3 separate regions of the Homo sapiens genome follow, and all the other regions are linked to region 1. The links come from fine-mapping of genetic effects on gene expression. A gene starts in region 1. Each other region holds a variant in brackets. All regions are shown on one strand. Distances are from middle to middle. Region 1 holds the start of PTPRK-AS1 (PTPRK antisense RNA 1). Region 2 overlaps PTPRK (protein tyrosine phosphatase receptor type K). Region 3 overlaps PTPRK (protein tyrosine phosphatase receptor type K).

What was found. PIP is the estimated chance that this variant, and not a neighbour inherited with it, causes the effect.
Region 2: its variant is fine-mapped to the expression of PTPRK-AS1 in whole blood (TOPMed, PIP 0.93).
Region 3: its variant is fine-mapped to the expression of PTPRK-AS1 in whole blood (INTERVAL, PIP above 0.99).

What each region holds. Positions count from the first base shown.
Region 1 is chr6:128,024,048-128,032,238 of GRCh38, forward strand. PTPRK-AS1 (PTPRK antisense RNA 1) reads left to right here and starts at 3,818. Exons shown (of 5, transcript NR_125849.1): 1 at 3,818-3,876. The region is part of intron 13 of PTPRK (protein tyrosine phosphatase receptor type K); the gene reads right to left.
Region 2 is chr6:128,062,779-128,070,969 of GRCh38, forward strand. PTPRK (protein tyrosine phosphatase receptor type K) reads right to left here. Exons shown (of 30, transcript NM_002844.4): 12 at 4,741-5,014; 13 at 1,980-2,016. It overlaps PTPRK-AS1 (PTPRK antisense RNA 1), which reads left to right. Exons shown (of 5, transcript NR_125849.1): 2 at 1-43; 3 at 4,709-4,818. Among named protein-coding and RNA genes, the nearest start is that of PTPRK-AS1, 39 kb to the left of the region's middle. The variant T/A (reference allele first, on the strand shown) is at 3,415.
Region 3 is chr6:127,974,986-127,983,176 of GRCh38, forward strand. It overlaps PTPRK (protein tyrosine phosphatase receptor type K), which reads right to left. Exons shown (of 30, transcript NM_002844.4): 24 at 7,846-7,995; 25 at 6,131-6,304; 26 at 1,938-2,069; 27 at 1,672-1,797. Among named protein-coding and RNA genes, the nearest start is that of PTPRK-AS1, 49 kb to the right of the region's middle. The variant C/A (reference allele first, on the strand shown) is at 3,240.

The sequences.
Region 1 (8,191 bases):
TATTATTTTTCTTTCCCAAACAGGCATTTAACATACCCGCACAATTCAAAGCTACTTAAATATTCCAAGTCATCACAGTAACTCAATCCTTTAAGCACATAACATTTCAACCCAGATGAACACACTAAAATAATTTAGAAACAGACTAAAATAATTCCTTGTAAGAGCTCTGTAAACATCTGGACAAATCTTATTCTATCATATCACAATGTACTTTAATAACTAAGTCTATTCTAGGCACATGGCCACAACTACTTGCATTGTAACAGATGATGTTCTCAATATAAGATTATGTTGCTATGGCATCAACAAACCATGATCTTATGAATCAATTCTCTTATTTACCAGGATCATTTTTAAGGAAAATAAAAAATTACTGGTTCTCTATTACATGTTTACATTTATGATAAATGTAAATTTAGCACTAAGTATGAAAATTAGTAATTTGACATTTTCTTAGTGTACAAAATGAGACCTATGGCCAGGCATGGTGGCTCACGCCTGTAATCCCAGCACTTTGAGAGGCTGAGGCAGGCAGATCACTTGAGGTCAGGAGTTCAAGACCAGCCTGGCCAACATGGTGAAACCCCATCTCTACTAAAAATACAAAAAATTAGCTGGGCATGGTGGCAGGCACCTATAATCCCAGCTACCTGGGAGGCTGAGACAGGAGAATTGCAACCTCCTGGGAGGCAGAGGTTGCAGTGAGCCGAGATCGTGGCACTGCACTCCAGCCTGAGTAACAGAGCAAGATTCCTTTTCAAAAACAAAAACAACAACAACAACAAACCAGGCCTATATTGTAATCACTGATAATTGCTAGAATTTATCATTAGATTTTTCAGGATCATTAGATTTTTCAGCAATATAGTTTTGCAATTTATTAACATGTACCAAAAGAATGAATATGAGAGAATAGAATGTAAATTGTAATATTTACCTTTTCAACTAAGATCACACAGTACTAGTTTATTTTGCAGTACAACAAGTTTGTCTTTGACATATGTGGAATAAATTCTACAAAGCTGAAAGAATTTGCCAGTCCTTTTAAATTAAGATTATCTCAAGCTATTTCCAAATCCTCAACAAACTGAAACATGGTTTTTGCATTCTGCATGTAGGAATGTGGCTGACAACAAAGATTTGCATAAGACACTCCACTCTCTCCCTGTGAGGCCAAGTTTTGTATTCCTTCATTAGTTTGTATGAATTCATATAACGAAGTCTCTGGCTCAGACAGATTGTTTTCTCTAACTTTTGTTATATGAAGATTATTTCAGCTGAACCTGAAAGGAGACACACATTCTTATACATCTTTTGCAAAATTGTCCTACCTTATAGAGGAAGAATAAGTAAACACATTTAAATCAAGATGAAAATCAATAGTTTGTAGATTAGAAAACCCTGGTTCTATCTAGCTCAAATAAGATCAAATGCTGACTTAACAACTGCATCTAAAAGAAAAAGTCATAAAATAATTTTCTATGTCTGTATTAGTTTCTCAAGGCCACTGCAGAAAACTGCCACACACTTGATGGCTAAAAACCACACATATTTATTCTCTTACAGTTCTGGGAACTAGAGGGCCCCAAAGCAGTATCACTGGGCCAAAATCAAGGTGTCAGTAGGGTTACCCTCGCTGCTGAGGCTCTAGAAGAGAACTCATTCCTTGCCTTTTCCAGCTACCAGTGCTGCTGGCATTCCTTGACTTGGGGTTACATGACTCCAGTCTCTACCTCTGTGGTCACATTGACTTCTCCTCTGTCAAATCTTCCTCTGCTTTGCTCTTATAAGAATACATGTAACTGGATTTAGGGCCCACACTGTTAATCCAGTATAATCTACCTTGTCAAGATCCTTTACTTAATCACATTTGCAAAGACCGCTTTTCCCTAAAAGATAACATTTACAGCTTATTGGGATTAGGACCTGGTATCTTCCAGTAGCCATTATTCAGCCTACTAAAATCTATATGCTTTCCAATGTATTTTTAAACAGAATTTTTCAAGGTATAGGCTTTAAAAAATTAAGAGAATCCCAAGAGATCTAAACAGTAAGAGAGAGAGGCCTAAGTGATGATATTGAGTGGTATTGAACAAAATAAGACAAAGAAGATCATCTGCCATATTTGACAGATGTTGGTAGACAACATCTTCTCTTCATGTTCCGTTGTTTGTAATTTGTTTTTACTGCTACCAGAACCTCTTACAATTCTCTACTCACTCATGTAAATACTAGCTGCAGAAGGTCTGGCAAAACTTTCTCCTATTTGTATATGTGTAAAGTGGTCTTTCCCTTACATCAAGTTAAAGAAAAAATACAGTTGTAATAGCTACTTCCCAATAGCCAAAGGGTTGTATTTGAAAGAGGGATGAAAATCACTCCAGGTACCAAGAAAAACTACTGTGTGATCTGGGACAAGTTATCTGCTTTTTTTGAGACCCACTTTTCTCATCTTTACAATGAAATAACTAAATTCTGCTCTCTAGGCTTGTTCTGAAGATTACTGAATATACATTTAAAGTACCTAGAAGTATTTGACACATAGCAGGAACTTAATATACAATTACTGGTATTACTATTAAGGATTAAGAAAGCACTGGCATGCAACATATTATATATTTGACAAGATTACATCATCTTGAAAAAATATAAGAAGTATTCTTTTTGTATAGTACTTTAAGGAGGATATTATTCATTTTATATCATTTTCCTTCTCACTGTGATATGTAGAATATATCACACCAAAATTGTGGTTGACCCAACACTCCAACCAGTGTCCTATTTTATTCACTCTGTATTTCTTAATCTATTCAATAAATATTACTAAATCCATTTGCTGTGCTAGATGCTGAGGGAGGTGTGTGACACAGCCTGTAGTCTAGTAGGGGAGGTAGGCATTAAATAATTAACTCCAGTCAATTTCAGTGCTATATATGAAAAAGACAATTCACTCCTTTTTATGACTTGACTTACAGCTCACAGTGCCCAGAAAACTGGGATTCTTGATAGAATGCGCCACATATATCCTAATTAGCAACAATCACTAGTTTGGCCCCATAATGTACATACCTAACACACACTTTCACAGGCAAGAGAAGAAAATACCTATCATCATATTATGATCAAAGTATTTTGAAGTAAAAATACTTCCTCATTATTTCTTAGAATACTGCATACAGCAATTCCTTTAAAAGCAGACTCTACTAGCATGTTTCCCACTGAACAGAACTGTTTGTCCATTTAACCAAAAGGTATTTATTGCCCGGGAATTCATTAGTTCATTATTTGAAGAAATACGTATATTGGGCAAGAATGTAAATCAGGCTGTTTAGTTATCACATGAAAATGCATAAAACAGTACCCACATTCAAAGAGTTCAAAGAGTCCTTCAGGAAATCAGGTGCCTAAAAGTCAAACTGACCTTTAAAAAAAAAATGTTCATAGCTTCCTCTGTTAAATGAATGATCGTTTCAGAGCTTTCTAAATGCCAAACTCTTTTAATATATTATTTCAATTAGCTTTCACAAGCACTTATGAGGCTTGTTGTATGTTTTTTTTTTCCTTTGAGACAGAGTCTTGCTCTGTCACCGAGTCTGGAGTGCAGTGGAGCCATCTCAGGTTACTGCAACCTTCTCCTGGGTTCAAGCAATTCTCCTACCTCAGCCACCCGAGTAGCTGGGACTACAGGCGTGTGCCACTGTGCCTGACTAATTTTTGTTTTTAGTAGAGACGGGGTTTCACTCTGTTGGCCAAGTTGGTGCGTACTCCTGGCCTCAAGTGATCCGCCCACCTTGGCCTCCCAGAGTGCTGGGATTACAGGCATAAGCCACTGTGCCCAGCTGTATCTTCTTTTACCGATGAGGACACTGACAGGTTGGTATCACCTCTTTCCTAGTCTATATTGCAGCCACTCCCTTATTGAAGTTTCTGACTCCAAGTCCTACTCATCCTAATCTACCTGCAGCTTTTAAGGTGTCATTTTTCTAAAACTTAAATATGATCCTATCATTGTTCTTCTTAATAGCCTACAAAGATTTCAGGGAAAATGAAAATGACGAATATAAATTATACTGCACACACTATTTATAATAATATTTAGCCACTTAAAATTAAAACACATAAAAATGTGGGTAAAGCTCATGGTAAAATAGTAACTACAAATAATTACAAGTCACAATCTTTGCAATTATGAGAAATGTTTAAGTAAGCACCTGATAAAAAAAAGGAAAAAGCAAAAGTGATAACAGTTGCTTAGAATATTGTTTCAGAACACCTTTTAAGGTTACCACACTGTTTTAATTTTTAAAGTGGAAGAGAAAGTGCTTTAGCACTGTTGATAGCTGCCACCCTGCCCTCAAGATAAAGTGAATCTTGAGTCTTACAGCCCTTTCTCATATCTGTATCAACATACATTTTAGCCTAATTTCTTACTAACTCCTCAGTATATTCTTGAACACTGCATTAACTTTCATGTCTAACTGCAAACCTCTGCCCATGCTGTTACCAGTGTGGATATGGTCTCTGGTTTTTCTACCTATTTAAATGTCACTTTGTATGGAATTCTATTTCATGTTTAGGCACACTGCATGAAATTATTACTTCAACTATCAGGTTCTTTCACAATTCACAACTTCTTGAGAGCATGGAACATATCCTATGTATTTTTAGTATTTTCTCAATGCCTAGTGTAAGACATATGGCAGAGAGTAAGTGTGCAACAAAATTGTGTTAATATTCATATTTTTCATAAGTGAAAACAATTTTTTTGTTGATATGATGCTTTGATGGTTTCTGATTTAAGGTTAGGATGTTAAACGGACTCTATTTTTACATGACCATAATTCTACTCCCCAATTCTGTTCCTAAATCTTTAGTGAGCTAAGAATTCAGATTCATGGTAAGGTTAGAATTGTGCTGGACTGCTTGTGACTTCAACTATCCATCTTCCATGGTCAGTTCTTGATCAACTGATACAGTTTGGGTGTTTGTGCCCTCCAAATCTCATGCTGAGATGTATTCCCCAATGCTGGAGATGGGACTTGGTGGGAGGTTTTTGGTTTTGGGGGTTGGCTCTCTCACGAATGCCTTGGTGCCATCCTCACAGTAATGAGTGTTCTTGTGAGATCTGGTTGTTTAAAGAGTGTGGACCTTCCCTCTCCTGTCTCCCTCTCTTGCCAAGTGATACATGGTTCCCCTTCACCTTCTGCCATGATTGTAAGCTCCCTGAGGCCCTCACCAGAAGCAGATGCCAGCACTACGCTTCCTCTACAGCCTGCAGAACCATGAACCATTTAAACCTCTTCTCTTTATAAACTACCCAGTCTCTGACTGCATGCAGTGGCTCACACCTGTAATCCCAGCACTCTGGGAGGCTGAGGCAGGTGGATCATTTGAGTTCAAGACCAGCTTGGCTAACATGGTGAAACCCGATCACTACTAAAAATACAAAAATTAGCTGGACAGGGTGGCGGGCACCTGTAATCCGAGCTACTGGGGAGGCGAGGCAGAAAAATCACTTGAACCTAAGAAGCAGAGGTTGTAGTGCCAATGCACTCCAGCCTGGGTGACAGAGTGAGATTCCATCTCAAAATAATAATAATAATAATAATAATAATAATAATAATAATAATAATAATAATCCAGCCTCACATATTACTTTATAGCAATGCAAGGACTAACTAACACACCAAATGAAGGCCAAATTTCTTACTTTGCTTACTCTTCAAAATACTTGTAAAGCATCATGATCCAGATGTGCTGGAGATTGAGGATGAAAGATAAAAGAAGAAAGAATCTATACTCTCAAAAATATCACTGCTTAGGTTCCCTAGAAGCAGAGCCTAAGACAAGGATTTGGATGCACATGATTTATTAAGGGAGTGTTGTCAGATGAAAAGGAGAGAGGAAAGTAGGGTAGGAAAGGGAAAGCAGCTAAGTGAGAATGTGGTATTAGCATAAGTCTAACTTCAGCCTGATGTCACGGGGAGCACTAGAGCATGAATTGCCCCAGAGTTGACCTAATGAAGTGAGGGCACTGGCTTTTTGTATTCCCCATGTCAGTTAGTCATCAGATATGAGCTGATAGTGCTGGGAGATGGGCACATAAGGTTTGGCAAAGTAAATGTTTTTCAGCTACAAGTGATTCTGAAGAGAAGTGGGGGCTGTGAGCCAATAGCAGCTAACACTGACGGAAACTGGGCATTTTACAGGCTTGGTAAAAGGGATCTGGCCAGGGCACCAAAGGTGACTAAAGTCACAGGAAAGCAGCACAACCTCCAAGTGACAACATACTCCGCTCTTTAAAAAAATATAAAGCAGCAAGGAAAGAGGCATTTTGAAGGGTAAAAATCATAAGATTTATAACTTAACCAGCAGTGTTTCTAGCTCAATCAGCAGTTGCTCATATTTATCTGTACATCCTGACATTATCTGTAGACGGTCCTTAAAACCTGACTCTTCCCTTAGCTGTGTCCTGTAAGATATGGATATTTCTTAGTTGCTGTTTCTAGCTGTGCATCTTGAAATTGCATTCTTGGATTATTTTAATCTTATCAAAGCCTTTATATGCGTGACTCTGACTGAAAATGGAGGGCTTCTTCATTTCCACAGAACAACTCCTACCTGGCTGATCAGATAGCAGCTGGATTATTCTTTTAAAAACAGTTGATTCTCTGTATAAAGCTTGTGCACATCAGGCTTGCTTTTTTTCCCCCAAGTCAGAAATCAAGTTCAAGAAGAATTTCAAGCTGACATAAAAATAATTCCCCTCAAAAGTCTAAAATGTCATTCTCTACAGCCTATACTAAACTTTTCACATGGAAATGGTTACGAACATCTGAGTATTGCATGATTGAACCATAGCATTCATTTTTTTCCCCAGCAAATATTTATTAGACACTTACTAGGTTCAAAAATTACACTAAATGACATGATAGATAAAATGATTAAATCAAATGAAACTTCAAATTTGAAAGAAATACTGGACACTATCACATCTGTGAAACTTTTATTAGCAGTAGAAATTTAAAAAATAAAATCATACGTAGGGACCCAATATATGAAACACTGAGAGCACAGACACAGTAGCTGAAACAGAAATAAGATACCACAGCCTTGAATGCTCTGACTTCATTTTGCCCCACATTCTTGAAAAATCACTCATTCAAGTGCATTTATAGTTTGGGCAACCTAGATTTGAACAGGTGATTTGGCTAAACGTACACGACTGCTTTGTAGAACCCAGGTCATCCGACACCAAGCTTGGTACATTTTCTTTCAAACTGCAGCTAAAGATATACTTCCCATCCTCTGGCACTTTGCACTTTGTTTGAAAAGAAAATAAATGTTCAATAATGATACAAATTGCATGACACTAATGCTATATAAATGCTGCAGAGTAATTTACATAAGACTGGGAAATGTGAAATGAATCATTCACAGAAGAAACTGATGAAGTAATTTCAATGTCTACATAAAATTTCTCAGTGTTTCATGTAAGAACAGACTATGGTAATTATCTTTTGTTGTTATTGTTGGGGAGGAAAGTAACTAATGAGTAAATGACAAATAACCAAACTCCAAATCAATTTAAAAAAAATCAGCTATGCTCCTTTCCCCTAACAACCCAAATACTTCCAAATGTTTCTACAATCAAAACTGCTTGGGCTGGGCTTTATTTATCCTCCCTTCTTTAGCCTTCAATTTGTAGATCTTGAACTAATTTAGAACAGTTTAAAGAACACCAAAAGTTAAGTGACAAAGACAAAGAGATGCACTGCCTCCTACACTCTTTCCCTGTAAGAAAAACACTGGAACGGTCCAGTGACCTGTCTGAGTCAGCATCCTCAATCTCATGTCCTGTCTTTCCTGCACCCTCACCCTGTGTCAGGGTCCTCCGGCTGTGATAAGCTCCCAAATTGCAAGTGTCACAGGCTTCAGTGGACCAGTGTATTCGCAGTCACAACAGCAAGGACTTGCTGTGGAAAGAAGGTGCTATTTGAACAGTTCAAGTGCTTCTGGTTTGCTGTGTCTGCTCTGATCGCAAAATTCTATCTGATTTTGACCTGCGACCTATCTCTAATGTCCAGCTTCTTGTACAACGCAGACTCCTGAGGCATCCTCGGGCTGCTGCCTCTCACCTTCAGATGCCCTTTGAGCCCTGCCTCCTGACTTAATCTTCCCTTCCAAT
Region 2 (8,191 bases), 39 kb after region 1:
AGCGATGCTCTCGCTTCAGCCTCCCAAGTACCTGGGACCACAGGTGAGCTCCATCAAGCCTGGCTAACATTTTTTTTTTTTTTAAATTTTCAGTAGAAACAGGGTCTTGCTATTTTGCCCAAGCTGATATCAAACTCTTGGCCTCAAGCTATCCTCCCACTTTGGCGTTGCAAAGTGCCAGGAGCCACCGTGTCTGGCCTATATATGTTATTTTAATCCTCACAACAATAAGAAGGTGTAGGTACTCTATTATTTAATTTTTGGAATGAGGGTTTACATAAGTTTCTCAATACTAAAAAATTCCTAAGGGACACAGTCAATATTTGAACTCAGATAGTGTAAGGCCAGAGTCCTTTCTCTTACTCACTACACCACACCACACTGCATTCCTGAGATCCAGAAGTGTAGCAGAGCTGGATTATTAGACAAATAATGGACTATTTTTTACCACTTCAAAGTTTCTGTCAATTATTCTATGCCACATGGTAAGACTGTTTCCAGGATCTCAATCCTCCTATAGTTTAAATATCATGTGATATTTGTCATTTTTTTAAATTTGTATCGAGAGAGCGATAAAAGGACACAAACATCTCAGGCAAGAGCAAATAATGAAATAACTGAATAAAAAAGTTATGTTAGGGTAATATATAGCTACCATTTCTCAGTTACAGAAACATAGCATGACATATCTAAAGAACTTCAGAGGTCAATGTGGGACACTTTTACAATTTTGGTTCTACTTTAAATCTGGAAAAACACAGGTGATATAGACCTAAATGCTTTCTTCTATTATCTTTTAAAAATTTCAACTCTCGTTCCTGATCAGTAAGCTAAATTTTTAAAATAAAATCCTTATACATCGTATGTATCTGTGTATATTTTCTCTTTAAGAATTGCTTTTTTAAATAAAAACTACCAAAAGGAATCTTCATAAGTGAATTGAAAAAGTATATTTTTTTCTCTTCCATAAAGCTTCTTTATTATTCACAAGCGTCAAAGAGAAAGTCTTTCTTTATTGCCTTACAAATCAGGAGTAAAGCACAAATGCTGATTGAGCAGACTGATGATTAGATGGAGAAAACTGATGAAAGGAAAGATGCCAGTACAAACAGAATATGGCCATTGATTTTTACCCCAAATGAATCAACTACTGGACACAAATGTGGGTCTGCTACTAATTCCGGCAGCAAACCACCCCAAGAACCAACCCTTTGAGGAGGCCCACGTCTGCATGCAGACAGCTTTTTCATGTTTCTCTTGCTAGAATACACCAAGTAGCAATTTATTCTTTGTTGGCACAATCAAGTAACTCTTAAATGAAGAATTAAAAACACAGAGAATGTAGGAGACTTTCCCCCACTTGGAACTCTAAATATTCATTCAAAGATGCAAATGTTTTCTCTTGTCAAAGAAACTAGGCAGCTAAGCCATAATATGCCAGGTCAGCAGGAATTGCCCTGGTTATGAGCTAGCCATCACAGATCTGGTTTCTCAGAATAAGTTTTAAAAAAAGTAAATGATCTTCAAGCTAACTGCACTACTGATGAAGATATGGACTAATCTCTATCCCTATAATCTTATGTAAACATGAATTAGCTTGGTTCTTTTTATGTTTGATTGTCTACAATGGAAAGTAATAGAGGTTTTTAAACAAGCAACTTGCTATTTTCATCTGCTATTGCTGACGCTTTCCTAAGATATTGGTTGATCAGCAGCACAAGATTTTTCAGACACTAAATGGCAGAAATAAGCCCTTCTAAGGTTTTCTAGATCTTTCCTGTTATCATAACAAGATTCCTTCAGTCAAGTACTAGAGGATGGGAAGTAGCACCCCATTAGTTGTTAAAGACACCCACATGAGTCACAGAACTAACTATAACAGAAATGTCATATTTAGCCCTGAAGCAGGGAACAAAGTCCTTCCATTTTAGAAAGGGGGTGAGAGTAGTTAAAACAAGCAAAAAAAGCAAACCTCTTACCTTTTGTAGCAATGCGTACGCACTGGGTTTTAGTTTCCTGATAGAGTAAAAATGAAAAAAAAAAGAGTCAATGTACAGATAATGTTTCCTGTTTCATAAACTATAATTATTATGAAGATCCATCTGGGGTCATAAAAAGGGATTATAAACAACAGAATTTTAATATTAAGAAAACTTTAAAAAATATGCCCCCCTAGGGATACTTAAAAATCTAAAGTAAGAACTTTGAAAAATATTTTAGTTTTTATAGAGATGTAAATATTTGTTTTTACCTTGCAATGAAACAGGTTAGTTTGTGACAAGTAGTATAGCATTCTATTTTCATGTATAGTGCTTCGTAAACTATCAGAAAAATGTACTTGCAAAGCTAATAAAAACAGTTCCAAATATAAATTTAATTTTCATCTGAGAACTGTAGACTGAGACCAAAGCTGAACATTACATACTTTCATCTGGATCCTAGCATGACTAAAAAGCTAAATGATAGCAGTTAGAAAGATCATCAAAACATTACATCATAGTTATGGTGTAATTTATCTGTTCTTTCTTTCTTTTAATTTAGCTATTAGGAGTTAAATGTTTCTCAGCATACATAATTTTCCTCCTCTTGCTAGACAGAGCGGGTATACAAAGTAGAAGCAGTAGGAAAGGACAAGAAAAAATATGATTATTTTTAACGCTGTCAGGTGGCAGTAGGAGACACATGTCCCTGCCAGCTACTTTTGGCCCCACTCTTCCTCCTCTAGGACTTAATTGAGTCAGCGTACATCCCTGAATACACAAGAGGTGAGAAAAGGTATCAAAGCCAGTGAACAAACCAGAGGCGATCTGTTTGCAAGATGCATTTATAACTCTATCTTGAGTAGTTCTATATGTTGATAATTTATAAAAGAGTTTACAATTTCCACTTAAGCATTTTTTATTTTTTTATTTTTAAATTAAAATAAAGCAGTGAGGGGGGAATTAGTAATTAAAAATAAAATGTTGCACTTCTATTACTTGTGGCCTGAGACCTTCATGGTAACCTGCAAGAGATTATTTCACATTCCCATAAAGGCCCCAAAGGATTTTCATTTCTTAAAAGCAATTGCTGTTTAACTTTCTAATGGCATTACCAATCTCTACTTGTAGAAGTCACATCAACTTTAAAACTCTTTGCCAAGATAACTGTGAAATATATTGTTGCTATTCTGTACTTTGATTAAACCACAGTGCAGATATATTAACAATTGGAAGAGAAAATTCATATCAAAAAGCTTTAAAGAATGCAGAGAAAATCCTTTATAAGTAACAGACATTCATTAACACTCCTCTGGTATAATAGACCAAATAACCAAAGTTAATTTGGAACCTCTCTAAAGATCAAAACCCTCACACAAAACTATGCTTCCTACTCAATGCTATATTATACCCAGAATGGACTAATAACTTCCAT[T/A]GTGTTCTGTTTTTATAGTAGCCCAGTTGTAACAGTGGTATGGAATGATATGTAGGCAGAAAGTGGACACTGGACTACTCTCTAAAGACCTCAGTTCTTTAAAGGTAAACGAGAAGAGCATCTTCAACCATGAGCAGCCTCTGACTCTGGAGCACATCTTAGAAGATGCTGTGGCCTTTTTCTTTGCTACCTACAAGCCAAGCATACAGGCAAGCAAACAACAAAGCTTTGATTCAAAAGCAGCCAATCAATACCCAAAGCTCTCACGGCCCCTGCAGAAATGCAAAAGGATTGTTATGTCTTCCAATTAAACTCTTTAAGATATAATATGACTGATGTAATTGTATATCATGTATCACTCCCAGGTGCTCACCTTAGGGACTCAATTACATAAACCCAGCAATTTCCTATACGGCTTCAAGTCTATTAAAATGTCATCATTCTATTGGATTTTAAATTGTGAAAATTTCTATCCTCAACATTTGTCTTCCCTCTATCTCTGTCTGCCAATAAATAAATAAATAAATAAATAAATAAATAAATAAAAATAAGTTTTAGGAAAGAAAATCTTCCAAAGAGAACAGCATGAGGCATGAAAGGCCAGGTTGTTTTCCCACATACGGAACTGCCGGTCGTTTCTAATGTCCTGTTGTGTTTTCCTCTTCAATATTCATTTGGGATCAGCAGCAGTGTTCAAAAACAACTGTGTCCAAAATGGGAAAAGGAGGGGCAACCAGGGAAACAGAGAGCAGCCTTCTGTAATGGCTCAGCAGCCAGTCATCGCCAGGCTGCCTTTTGTTTAGGTTCAGTCAGATATACCACAGGCGCCCTATTACTTTGTAATCAGAGGATTGTTACATGTTATTTACTATTTGGCTTGAAAACCCTGAAAAGTTTATAAGGTTTTATTAGCCTGCTGTGGAACACGCATTCTGTTTATCCTGCAGTAAATTTAATCTCTTGAAGTGTGCCACCACTGAGCAAGGAAGACAGAACAATGCCTGATCGTTACTGAGGGTGGAGTCCCAGCAGCAGCACACCCACGTTTTCAAATCATTTTACTCTCAATTGCTATTGTGGGCTTTCCTGAGGAAGGCTCGAGTAGAAGCAGTTACTAGGAAACAGGAACCCTGTGAAATGGAACTGGCGTGCGGCCTCAGCCCTACTGTAGCCCCAAAACTGCGCACACTGTTGAGAACAGAACCCCCTACATGCAAATTTTCTTTTTCTTTTTTTTTTTCTTGACGGATGCTACTGAGTATTCATAAAATTTGACTTCAGCTTTTCTTCAAAGCAGGGAAAAAGCAAATCCTGGAGGAAGCTCACCTTCTCCACACTGCTCATCGCCTGGAAATAGATGTTGTATCCTTTGCGCGGAGCCAAAGGAGGGTTCCAAAAGCCTTGGTAGGTCCGATTGTCACCCACAGTGAACGGGGCAGGCTCAGGTAGGTTTCCCGGGGGGAGTTCTGCAGCAAAGTAATACGGTGCACCCCCACTCATGGCATTTTGGTATGTGACAGGAACCTGGTAGCATTCCATGGCTCCGGCTTCTCTCTTGGTTCGGTGTGGGTGCAGTTCTTCCACAACAATCTGATAAGCACTTTGGGGAAAAGAAAAAAAGAACACACATATATATACACACATATTTAGAGATTTAAGATACTAAGATTTTTTTTAAGGGGTTGACTATTAACACACCACATTTCAAAGTATTTAAAGTTAGTCTTAACCTGGTATACTCTTTTCAGCTATTTCGCAATAAAATGAAAAATCCATATAGATGCTGCTGTCCCTAACATCACTGTAGTTACAAAGAAACTGATAAAAAGAAGAACAATCACCGTAGGACTTTCAACATTTTTAAATGTTGAGGAATGAGCCACCCTAATAAGGATTCTGACATTAACCAAAGACACATCATAGATTCAGTTCTTTGTCTGATATTTTTAAATGTTTAAAGTTAACATTTTCCCTTGAAATGATATTACAGAAAGTCCAGCTCCAAGGTCTAACAGAATGACTGCCTCAGGGCGGTGCTAGAAGCACCCATTTGTGGTTGTCACAGCCTCAGAGACAGAATGTACTGACAGGCTTCTCCACCTCTTGACCTTGCCATGGCATCTACACTGGCTCAGAGCTATGTAGATCTAAAATACAAGTGACATGCGGCAATACGGGCACAGATGGACAGAAATCTGTCCTCACAACCGAAATAGACCGCCTCCTTCTTCTGGAGTTGTTAATAATAAAATGTTACAAATTGTAGAAACAGATGGCATTTGGCCTATTAAAGCTCTAACCTAAACCTTCTGATATCTTTAAGTCTTAAAACTTTTCTATAATTGCAATTACTTTACAAAGGAGAGAAAAAAACAAAAAGAAAAACAAGGCAAATTTAAAATAAAGATCCCCCGGATATCTAACAATATTTTTTAACAACTCTGAAGCTGGTATATTAACAATATTCTTTTTTAGTAGAAAATTCTTTACGTTAAAATTTTTTCAGGTAAAATATTACCATGAAAGTTGACATTATTATTATAATATATTTTATACATTATAAATATATTTTAAAATGTTTTAAAATTCCTAAAAATTCTGGAAAAATATATGTGGTATCTTAGGTAAGTTGAACATAAATTGTATGCAGGGCTGCATATTGATATTCAATGGATCTCCAGGAGGAACAGAATACATTCTTTAAAAGACTTCCATGAAAAAGAAAGAGGTGGGTAGGTAGAGGGGAGTGGGGAGGAGAGGGGGAGGGAGAAAGAGAGACAGAGAGAGAGAGGAGAGAGAGAGATACACTGAACATGCATCTATGAAAATTAAAACAGTTTAGACTCTGGCATAAAATTCTAATTTAATATAAACTCTTATGCCTACAAATAAAAGATCTTCATAGATTAAACAAAAGGACATCAAAAGAAAGAGTTAAATCATAATTTAATTGATAAATTACAGATTTTCTTTTCTTCCTAGTTATTTAAGCTCCCATTTTCCATTAAAATATTGCTAATAAATCAGTAGGTTCATATCCATCTTGTTTCCTCTAAAAAGATAACAGAACTTGTATTAATGTTAGAAATTGTGATTTGAGCAAGCAAGGCAGAAGTCTATGTTATTTCAAATTATATGTGCTGCATCATTCCCTATACCTCTGCCAAGTTGGTTGCTAAGCTTCTAAGAATGCTACTGACAAGATGCATGGTCTCTGAGGCATCCATGGAGCAGGCATTTGTCAATTTTAAGATATAGAAAATACATACGCATAGCCCTGGAGAAAGACGAGAATGATCATAGCTGACATATGCTATGTTTTATTTTAAATTTATAATTCATATTTGTATATTATACATTTGCATGTCCTGTGGATACATCCACATATGCATATAAACTCCCTCATACATGCTCTCCAAACAAATGTAACCTTATATTCTTGCCCTAAAGAATAATAATAATTACCTATCCTTGTTAATCATTAATCTAATCCTTAAAAATAGATTCTTCATTAATTATCCCATACCTCTAGAAAAAAAAACACAAAATCTAGTGAACATTCAATCTTAACTAATTCTATTACATTGACAGAGATTCTACATTACAAATTAAGGATACTTCATGCAAGACAGCTTGTCTATCTAGATCTGTGAGGAGCAAAGTAAATTGCCAGTGTTGGAGAAGAGTAAAGGAAGAAAAGGTGCAATAGGCTCTTTGGGAAAGAGCCTTAAGTATGGTCCCATAGAAAATAAAAATCAATGCCTTGGGTTGAACTTTCAGATTTGGCCCTACTCTCAATTAAAATGAAAGATAAATTATTTCAATTTTATAAGTTCTAAAATACAAGTAACATGCTTGTTTCATAAAGAATTAAGAAAATGATTTCCACATAATTTATATACAAATATAAATTACAGTGCCATGCACTTTAATCTTATATATCTTTTCTCTACCAATATTATTCATTTATTCTTTGAATGGTCATTACAGAAATGAAGTATTATATTTCTGTTACTATTGAAACTGAGGCAGAAGAATAGAGCTCCCCTTAAAACTTAAACCAGGAACCTCACTTTGTTCATTCTCTACTTTATACTACAGTGTTACCAACTGAATATTTGTGCCCCCTCCCCCAAAATTCATGTTAAAACCCTAATTCTCAAAGTGATAGTATTTGGAGAGGGGGCCTTTGGAAAATAATTAGGTTTAGAAGAGGGGCCCTCACCAAGAACCAAATCCGAGAGCACCTGGATCTTGGACTTCCCAGTCTCCAGAACTGTGAGAAATATTTCTTGTTTAAGCCACCTAGTATTTTGTAATAGCAGCCTGAGCAAACTAAGACACATAAATACAAAAAGACTTCTGAGAACTGGCTTCCAAGCATACTTTCTAAAACATTCTTTGTGCAATGAGTAACATTAGATGGAACGCTAGTTGGAGATAACCTGGTCACCGCACTCTATAACCCTCCCACTCTACCACCACTCATACCAGGAGAAATGTCTTCATGATATAACATTCACCCCAGTTTCTAGATATTTTTAATCCCAAATATGTTTAACTCCAAAAGCTGATACAATAGCCATTACATTTTCACATATTATACTTACTTAAACGCCCATTATCCTATTTGAAACCACACTGGAATATGTGGTTTCAAATAGGATAATGGACGTTTAAGTGTTTATGAAATGAATACATTGCTTTTGCCTTTTCTGTTGATATTTTTGCTTAGGACATATCTAAGATACTCTTTTTCTTTCTCCATGAAAGTACA
Region 3 (8,191 bases), 49 kb before region 1:
TAGATTACAAGCCCTACTTAGTACTCTACAAACTTGTTGGTACATGTTAAATGTTTGATGCAGTTAAATATATTAAATATATTAAATGATGAGAGTGAGAACAGAAAAAAAATCATGTACTAATAAGGACCAGAATACCAAATACAGAGGCAGTTCAATAAGTAAGCAAACAAATAAATAAATATGCTGACAAAAATATAACATTTCAGTTCCTGTTCCTAGAATATTTTTCACATAAACTGCTCAATTAACAGACAAGCCTTACTGTCTTCAGCAGTTCTGTTTTTTTCCAACTCAAATATTACTAGAACCATAATGTAACAGATGTGCAGACATAATGAGATTCCATTTAAATTAACATCTAAGATATGCATGAATATTATGAGATGATTGAAGTTATCCTTTTTTTCTCCACTGAAATGAGCAATAGGAGTCGATATGATTCCATTCCCTGCTCATAGTTATATACATATAGACTTATTAACCAGACACACACGTAGTCATTTTGATATGAGAGACACTGAAACATGATAATCCTAATCACACACTTAAAATACATACCCACAGAGCTGGTGCTTTAAAAAACAGAGTAATGTTTCTCTCTAAAAAGAGCTTAATTTCATGAAAGTTACTAATGTTTTCTTTTCCAATTCTGCTTGTTATTTGGTTACATAATCTAAATTGTTTTTATTAATATCTTTTTTTGGGGGACGAAGTCTCGCTCTATACAGCCTGGGGTGCAGTGGCGTGATCTCAGCTCACTACAACTTCTGCCTCCCGGGTTCAAATGATTCTGCTGCCTCAGCCTCCCCACTAGCTGGGACTACAGGCATGCCACCACCATGTCCAGCTAATTTTTGTATTTTTAGTAGAGATGGGGTTTCACCACGTTGCCAGGCTGGTCTTGAACTCCTGACCTTATGATCTGCCCGCCTTGGCCTCCCAAAGTGCTGGAATTACAGGCATGAGGCACTGTGCCCGGGCTTTATTAGCACTTTTTTTTTTAAGATCTTCCCCACCCACATTGAATTTGTCATGTAGTGGAAAGCAAATGAGGAGTCAGAGAAAGACGATACAGTTACTACTTTGCTGCTGGGAAAAGGCATGGTGGTAGCAGCACTGGTTCTACCTTTAGATCTGCTTAGAGCCATAGGTTGAGACGTTTAGGAAGATGAAATTGCAGGTAGGATAATCAATAATGAACTTGGAACAGTGACATGGAACCCTTCTATAATGGTTGATCCAACATGTCTCTTTCCTCCTGCAGTACAGTTTCTCTGTCATTATTGTTATTGCAATGTTCTTATTTTTTTTATCACATGCCATTTCTGGGCTGGATGTCAATACTAATAAAACATGCAGTCATCCTTAAGATAAGTCTACATACACTCAGAGGCCAGGCCTAGGCTGTCCAACTTGACTGAGCCAGTGCATCTGTATTTCCTGAGAGAATATGCTAGTCTAGTGACTGACCGAAAAACCTAGCTTCCAGCATTTCTGTTTTCCTGTATTTTTATTCGAGTACTAAGGCATAAGATGGTTACTAGCTTTGAGGTGGATGATATAGTGCTTATTAATTGTAGTCTCCCTGTTGTCTGAATAAAATTATACCACATCTTGGTTATGACTGACCTATTCTAGATCAGCTCAAAGGATCCGATAGTGACTTACTCTTGTTAGATTGCATATCCTAAAAATCCGGTTGATCACATCACAGTCCATTGAACAAGACATACATTCCACTTGGATGGGGCCATATCGTAGCATCCCTTCCTCTGGCCAGTACTGAGGGCAGCCCTAAATGATGAACGTTTTGAAAGAAAAAAAAAAAGAGTATTATTTTTTCTAGTTAGGAGAGTATAAAGCAGATTTTAGCAATTCATTACTACTCTATTAAGTTGTATATAAGTACATAAAAGCAATCCATAGCCATTAACCTGGGACAAGTCGACTTCGTTTAACATCACAATGGAGGTACAGCCATAATCATACACTAATCTCCAGAAGTCTTTTACAGTGTTTGGCAGAGGGTATTGTGTGACGATGAAAGCAGCTGGTTGCCTGTAGCTCTGTGAAGAAACAAGGTAGATGGAGAAATATAAAAACTTAAAATGTATGATCGGTTGTACAAACAGATACAATACACTTCAATGTAGGACCAGTAAGATGCAATAGCTTCATATGCAGAAGGAGCCAGAGTGATGATTAAACCATGGAATAGGAGATTCAGACCACTGGAATGAACTGAATTAGTACAGTAATGAATCAATTTGGTGGAAGACTTCAATGCTTCCAAAGCAATTCAAGTCAATAACTGAGTTTTTACTTTACTGAAAGACGTAAATACAGGACAAATACAAAAGAAGAAACTAAAAAGCTTCTGAGGTTAACATCCTCTGTAAGGTTCCTGTTGGGCTATTTCAATTTTCCAAACGTAATCAGTCTCTGAGAGGCTGAAGGCAAAGTAAGCACAAAACCCCTGGTATGTCTATCAATCATCTGGGTATGTGTATAGTGTGTGTGCGTGCAAGTAAAATTGTTTTACTCTTCTCCACTCCAAATAAGAAAAACCACAAGTAGCTCAAACACTTGTGCTTTTACATTATGTGGACACTACCAGGATATTCTGCACATCTTGCAGACAATCCACCTTCCACAGCTTCCTGGGCATTTCTAACATATATCAAAGGTCATAATGACAGTCTCAACCATTTAAGATCCTGAAGCACCAAAGCATAACAGCAATATATTTCCTGTCCCCACATAAGCGGGGAGATAGCTCCTTGTTAACCAAGTCCTCCTTGATTAGAACACAATATATTATCTCTTTCCAAAGGGAGAAGTAGTAAAAACAATATTTATCTGGACTGGACAATTGCCATTTGATTTAAACTAATTATTTGCAATAATAATAATAATAATTAGTAGATTATAGAGTTCCCTAATGCTGACAAAAATTTTCAATGATCTTGTAACTCATTTGTATCATACTACTATTTAAGTCCTTCAAGAATCTTAACATCAGCACAGGAACTGGTTCTTGGACTTCACTGATGCTACCACCATTTGGGAAATGCTACCAACCATGGCATTCAGCGTTGGCTGAAGACTGCAGGATAAATCTGAGTAGATGACAATAATAATTTACCTGGCTACTTCTAAATGACCTCAAAACCTTACCAAGTTACACGTGCAGCTGGGATGAGTGTCTCCTAAGAAAGGCAGGAAGGTTCATGAGT[C/A]ATATTGTTTGGCTCTGTGTCCCCACCCAAATCTCACCTAGAATTGTAATAATCCCCACATGTCAAGGGCAGGACCAGGTGGAGATAATTGAATCATGCAGGCAGTTTCCCCCATGCTGTTCTCCAGATAGTGAGTGAGTTCTCATGACATCTGGTGGTTTTATAAGGGGCTTCCCCCTTTGCTTGGCACTCCTTCCCCTTCCTGCCACCATGAGAAGAAGGACGGGTTTGCTTCCCCTTCGGCCATAATTGCAGGGATCCTGAGGCCTCCCCAGCCCTGTGGAACTGTGAGTCAATTAAAACTCTTTCCTTTATAAATTACCCAGTCTCAGGTATGTTTTTATTAGCAGTGTGAGAATGAACTAATACAATGAGAAAAGTTAGAAGAAAGGAAGCTCTTCTTCCAATCAAATGTCTGCTCCATGCAAAGGTAAGTCAAAGCAGACTGACGGCTATCTACTCATTTTTTGAGCCACAGGGGAGGGGATATGCATGAGGAGGAGCTGATAAGAGAGGAGAAGACTGAAGACTTCCTATTCTTTTTCCCTCTAAATGCAGGAACATATGTAAGGCTTTGAAATTACAGAATTCTTGGCCCTAGCTCCTAATCCCTCATAGACCTGGCAAAAGGGTACTAATGATGGGGATAAAGGGTAGGGAGAAAGAAGTGAACAATAAACCCTGTTCTTGTAAATCAAACCAGCTTTACTTCTCCAACGGTTCATTTGCACTACTAAATCCCCAGAACAGCTTTAACTATGAAATGTCTTTTTTTTGAATCACAGGGGATTAAGCAGACAGTAAGAGCAGGTGGATTACAAGCTTCAACTTTCATACAGAAAAAAAGACAAGCTTGGACAAGAAAGCAAGACCCCATCTTTACAAAAAATAATAAAAAAAAAATTAGCTGGGCATGATGGCATACACCTTAGTTCTAGCTACTTGGTAGGCTGAGGTGGGAGGACCACTTGAGCCCAGGAGATTGAGGCTGCAGTCATCTGTGATCATGCACGACACTCCAGCCTGTGCTACAGAGTGAGAGCTTGTCTCAAAAAGAAAAAGAAAAAAGAAAAGAAAAGGAGACAATCTGGACATTGAGAAAAATTTGACAAAGATGCCAATGGCAAAAAATTCAAAGGCATCAATGCTTTTCTAAATATTATTATTTTCTCCTTTTCTTGTTCACACATCCTTTTTTTATTCCATATTTAGATGCAGAAATGAAAAAGTATTGTATGCCATCTCTCTATTTAGTATATTTGCCTTTCCAGACACCTAATATAAAAAGAAAAGGTATAATTAGGATTTAATGTGATTTCAGTGGATGTGATTAATGGCCAGGCAAGACTCCGATCACAGCAAGGATGAGAGCTTTTCACAGGCAAGAGTGACCACAGCAAGGACGAGAGCCTGCCTTTAGACTATTCCGCTTTGCAGCACCAAAAAGAGTAAAGTAACTGGTGAAGACTACTCGTAGAAACAGAATGTGGGCTTAACAGGAACAATAACTTAGAAAGCCTGTTATAGTCAGAAAGAAATGAACCGTGGCTTCTAATTTCTCCTTGATATGGTTTCATAGGAGAAAGGGCAAAAGCTAGAAATGAAGGCAGTAAACTGTTTAAAAAGATTATAAACCATGATAGCTTTCTTGCTTCTTTCCAACATAATCAAAGTAAAGTGGCCAAAGTCATAATTTAAAACTTTCTTTCCTTGGGAGGCCAAGGTGGGCGGATCATGAGGTCAGGAGTTTGAGACCAGCCTGGCCAATGTGGTGAAATCTCATCTCTACTAAAAATACAAAAAAGGCCCGGCACGGTGGCTTACGCCTGTAATCCCAGTACTTTGGGGGGCCGAGGCAGGTGGATCACCTGAGGTCAGGAGTTCAATACCAATCTGACCAACATGGTGAAACCCCATCTCTACTAAATACAAAAAATTAGCCGTGCATGGTGGTGCATGCCTGTAGTCCCAGCTACTTGGGAGGCAAAGGCAGGAGAATCGCTTGAACCTGGGAAGCAGAGGTTGCAGTGAGCCGAGATTGTGCCATTGCACTCCAGCCTGGGCAACAAGAGCGAAACTCTGTCTCAAAAACAAAAACAACAACAAACAAACAAAATAAGCGGGGTGTGGTAGAGCACGCTCCTGTATTCCAAGTTACTCAAGAGTCTGAGGCAGGAGAATTGCTTGAACCTGGGAGGCGGAGGTTGCAGTGAGCTGAGATCATGCCACTGCACTCCAGCCTGGGCGACAGAGTGAGACTCTGTCTAAAAAAAAAAAAACCAAAAACTAAAACAGAAAACTTTCTTTCCATATTGTTCTGTCTATGGGCTATATAACACCCTGCAATTTAAGATTTTAGAATGGGGCAAGATTGTTCTTTCATTATGATGGATGTGTTAACATAATACCATCCATCCCCTCTCTAGTTACTTATAATAGTCCTTATTGATTAATGGCCAACAAATTAATTGTAAATTATTGAAACATTAAATGTCAGAAATAAAAATTTCCCAAATTAACATGATTTTTGTAGGATTTGGCATTCTGTGATTTAAAAAATTCATTTCTAATTATATTCAAAATAGATAAGGCATGATTTTCTTTTCTGAAAATAATTAAGATGAAATTTATAACTTGCAATATTTACTACATGAATATAATAATTGACAATCAAGCTCCAAATCTACAATAAAGCTATAAAAATGACAGTTCTTAAGAATCTCTATAGGGAAAACCTAAAATCATTTTCCAAAAAAATGTGTTTCAATAAAAGTTTCCACTTTTCCTTTTTAGGTTATTTTAATTTCCTCGAAAAGAAAACTAGCCAGTGTTCAGTTGCATTATGTAGCTTTCCACAACACTCTACACTAACAAAGAGGGCAGTCTCTTACGTCCATAAGAGCAGCATTGATGTAGTTACTGCTCTCCCCATCAATTGTAATTAAAAAAGGCAGACATCTGTCAGGTGGCAGCATGTCCATGAAACGGTTCTTGTCATGGTTCCTTGGCAGGCACGCTATACTGCAGTCTTCAGCTTGTAGTCGAGGGGTGACTGAATTCAGAGTCTAAAAAGAAAAGAGAACCCAGGTTAAAAGACAGTGTGACCCATTTAACAGTATAACACAGATCCATCAGGAATTTAGAAGGCCAAGTAGAAAGTGAAGGATTTGTGCGAGGCAATGGCATTTGCTACTATGACAGGCTGATAGACCTTGTAGTTAAAGCTAATGAAGCCTGAGAAGTGACAAAGAAACAAGACACACATTGTTCAGGGCTCCTCTTCTTAAAAGGAAAAGGTACGCTAAACAACACTGCTACCTGCAAAATGCATTGCCTTAACCAAAGAAAATGCAATCGGGCAGTCCATTATGATAATGACCCTTCATCACACTGGGAAACGGTATCATTTGTAGTAACATCTGGGCTTGCCATATTTGAAGATAAGCTATGGCATGTTGGAAAGAGCACTGGATCAACAATCAAAGAATTTGGTCTCTGCCCTTGATTTTATTTTCACCCACCTTCAGGGGTGTTTTAAGGGCAGTGAAAACATTTAGGGCTATTTTGAAATAACATGTACTACAAACTTCATTTATTATTATTATTACTATTATTATTTTTGAGACAGGGTCTTACTCTGTTGCCCAGGTTGGAGTGCAGTGGCAATATCTTGGCTCACCACAGCCTTCCAGGGTTAAGCAAACTTCCAGGGTCAAGCAATCCTCCCATCTCAACCTCCTGAGTAGCTGGGACTACAGGCATGCACCACCACACCCGGCTATTTTTTATATTTTTTGTAGAGATGAGGTTTTGCCATGTTGGCCAGGCTGGTCTTGAACTGCTGACCTCAAGATCTGCCTGCCTTGGCATCCCAAAGTGCTAGGATTATAGGTGTGAGCTGCCACTGAACCCAGACTCAGTTATAATTAATGTGCTTGATCTCATCACATTGTGAGTGACCCAGGTCAAAATCTGTATGACTGCATGAAAAAAAGGCTATAAATACACACTAAATACACACAAATCACCACTCATTTTGACTTGTTATTATTTCTTTTTTTTTTCTGAGACGGAGTCTCGCTCTGTTGCCCATGCTGGAGTGCAGTGGTGCAATCTCGGCTCACTGCAAGCTCCGCCTGCCAGGTTCACGCCATTCTCCTGCCTCAGCCTCCCGAGTAGCTGGGACTACAGGCACCCGCCACCATGCCTGGCTAATTTTTTTTGTCTTTTTAGTAGAGACGGGGTTTCACCGTGTTAGCCAGGATGGTCTCGATCTCCTGACCTCGTGATCCACCCGCCTCGGCCTCCCAAAGTGCTGGGATTGCAGGCATGAGCCACTGCGCCTGGCCTAATTTTTGACTTTTATGATACCTTTCCCCTTTGCTCTTCCCTAAGTCTGAACTTATTTGTCATTTTGGATATAGTAGATATAAATTCATCAATAGAAAAGTGACTATATAATATGTATAATGAAAGAGATACGTATTGTATTTAAAACAGGATCAAAGGTTATAAATTTGACTTGAAAGACCTTCCTTGAAAGGATTCCTAGCGCCCAGAACAAATTGTAGTAAGTCACAAAAGAGGTTTTAGAAATAGTTAATACCTGAAATTCATCCTTGAGATGTGAAGAGTTAGTCTGGGAGTCTATTCTAATCATATCAAAATATGCAGCTTTAAATTCACAGACAGGTATGGCAGTTTCTCCACATAAGCAGGCTTCTAAAATGGCATCATGAATAAAAATGTACTGTTCCTACCAAAAGAATGAAAAAGAAAATTTTGTACTAGTTTTAGTATCACTTTTCTGTCATCAAAGTTAGGAAATACAGAAAATTTTCTCTATATGGAAATATGAATTAAAACACCAATATTTTTCTATATGACTCAGCTAATATTGATTACACATGAAAAACATCTCTTTCGGTTGAGTAGAGTATATATGAGAGACA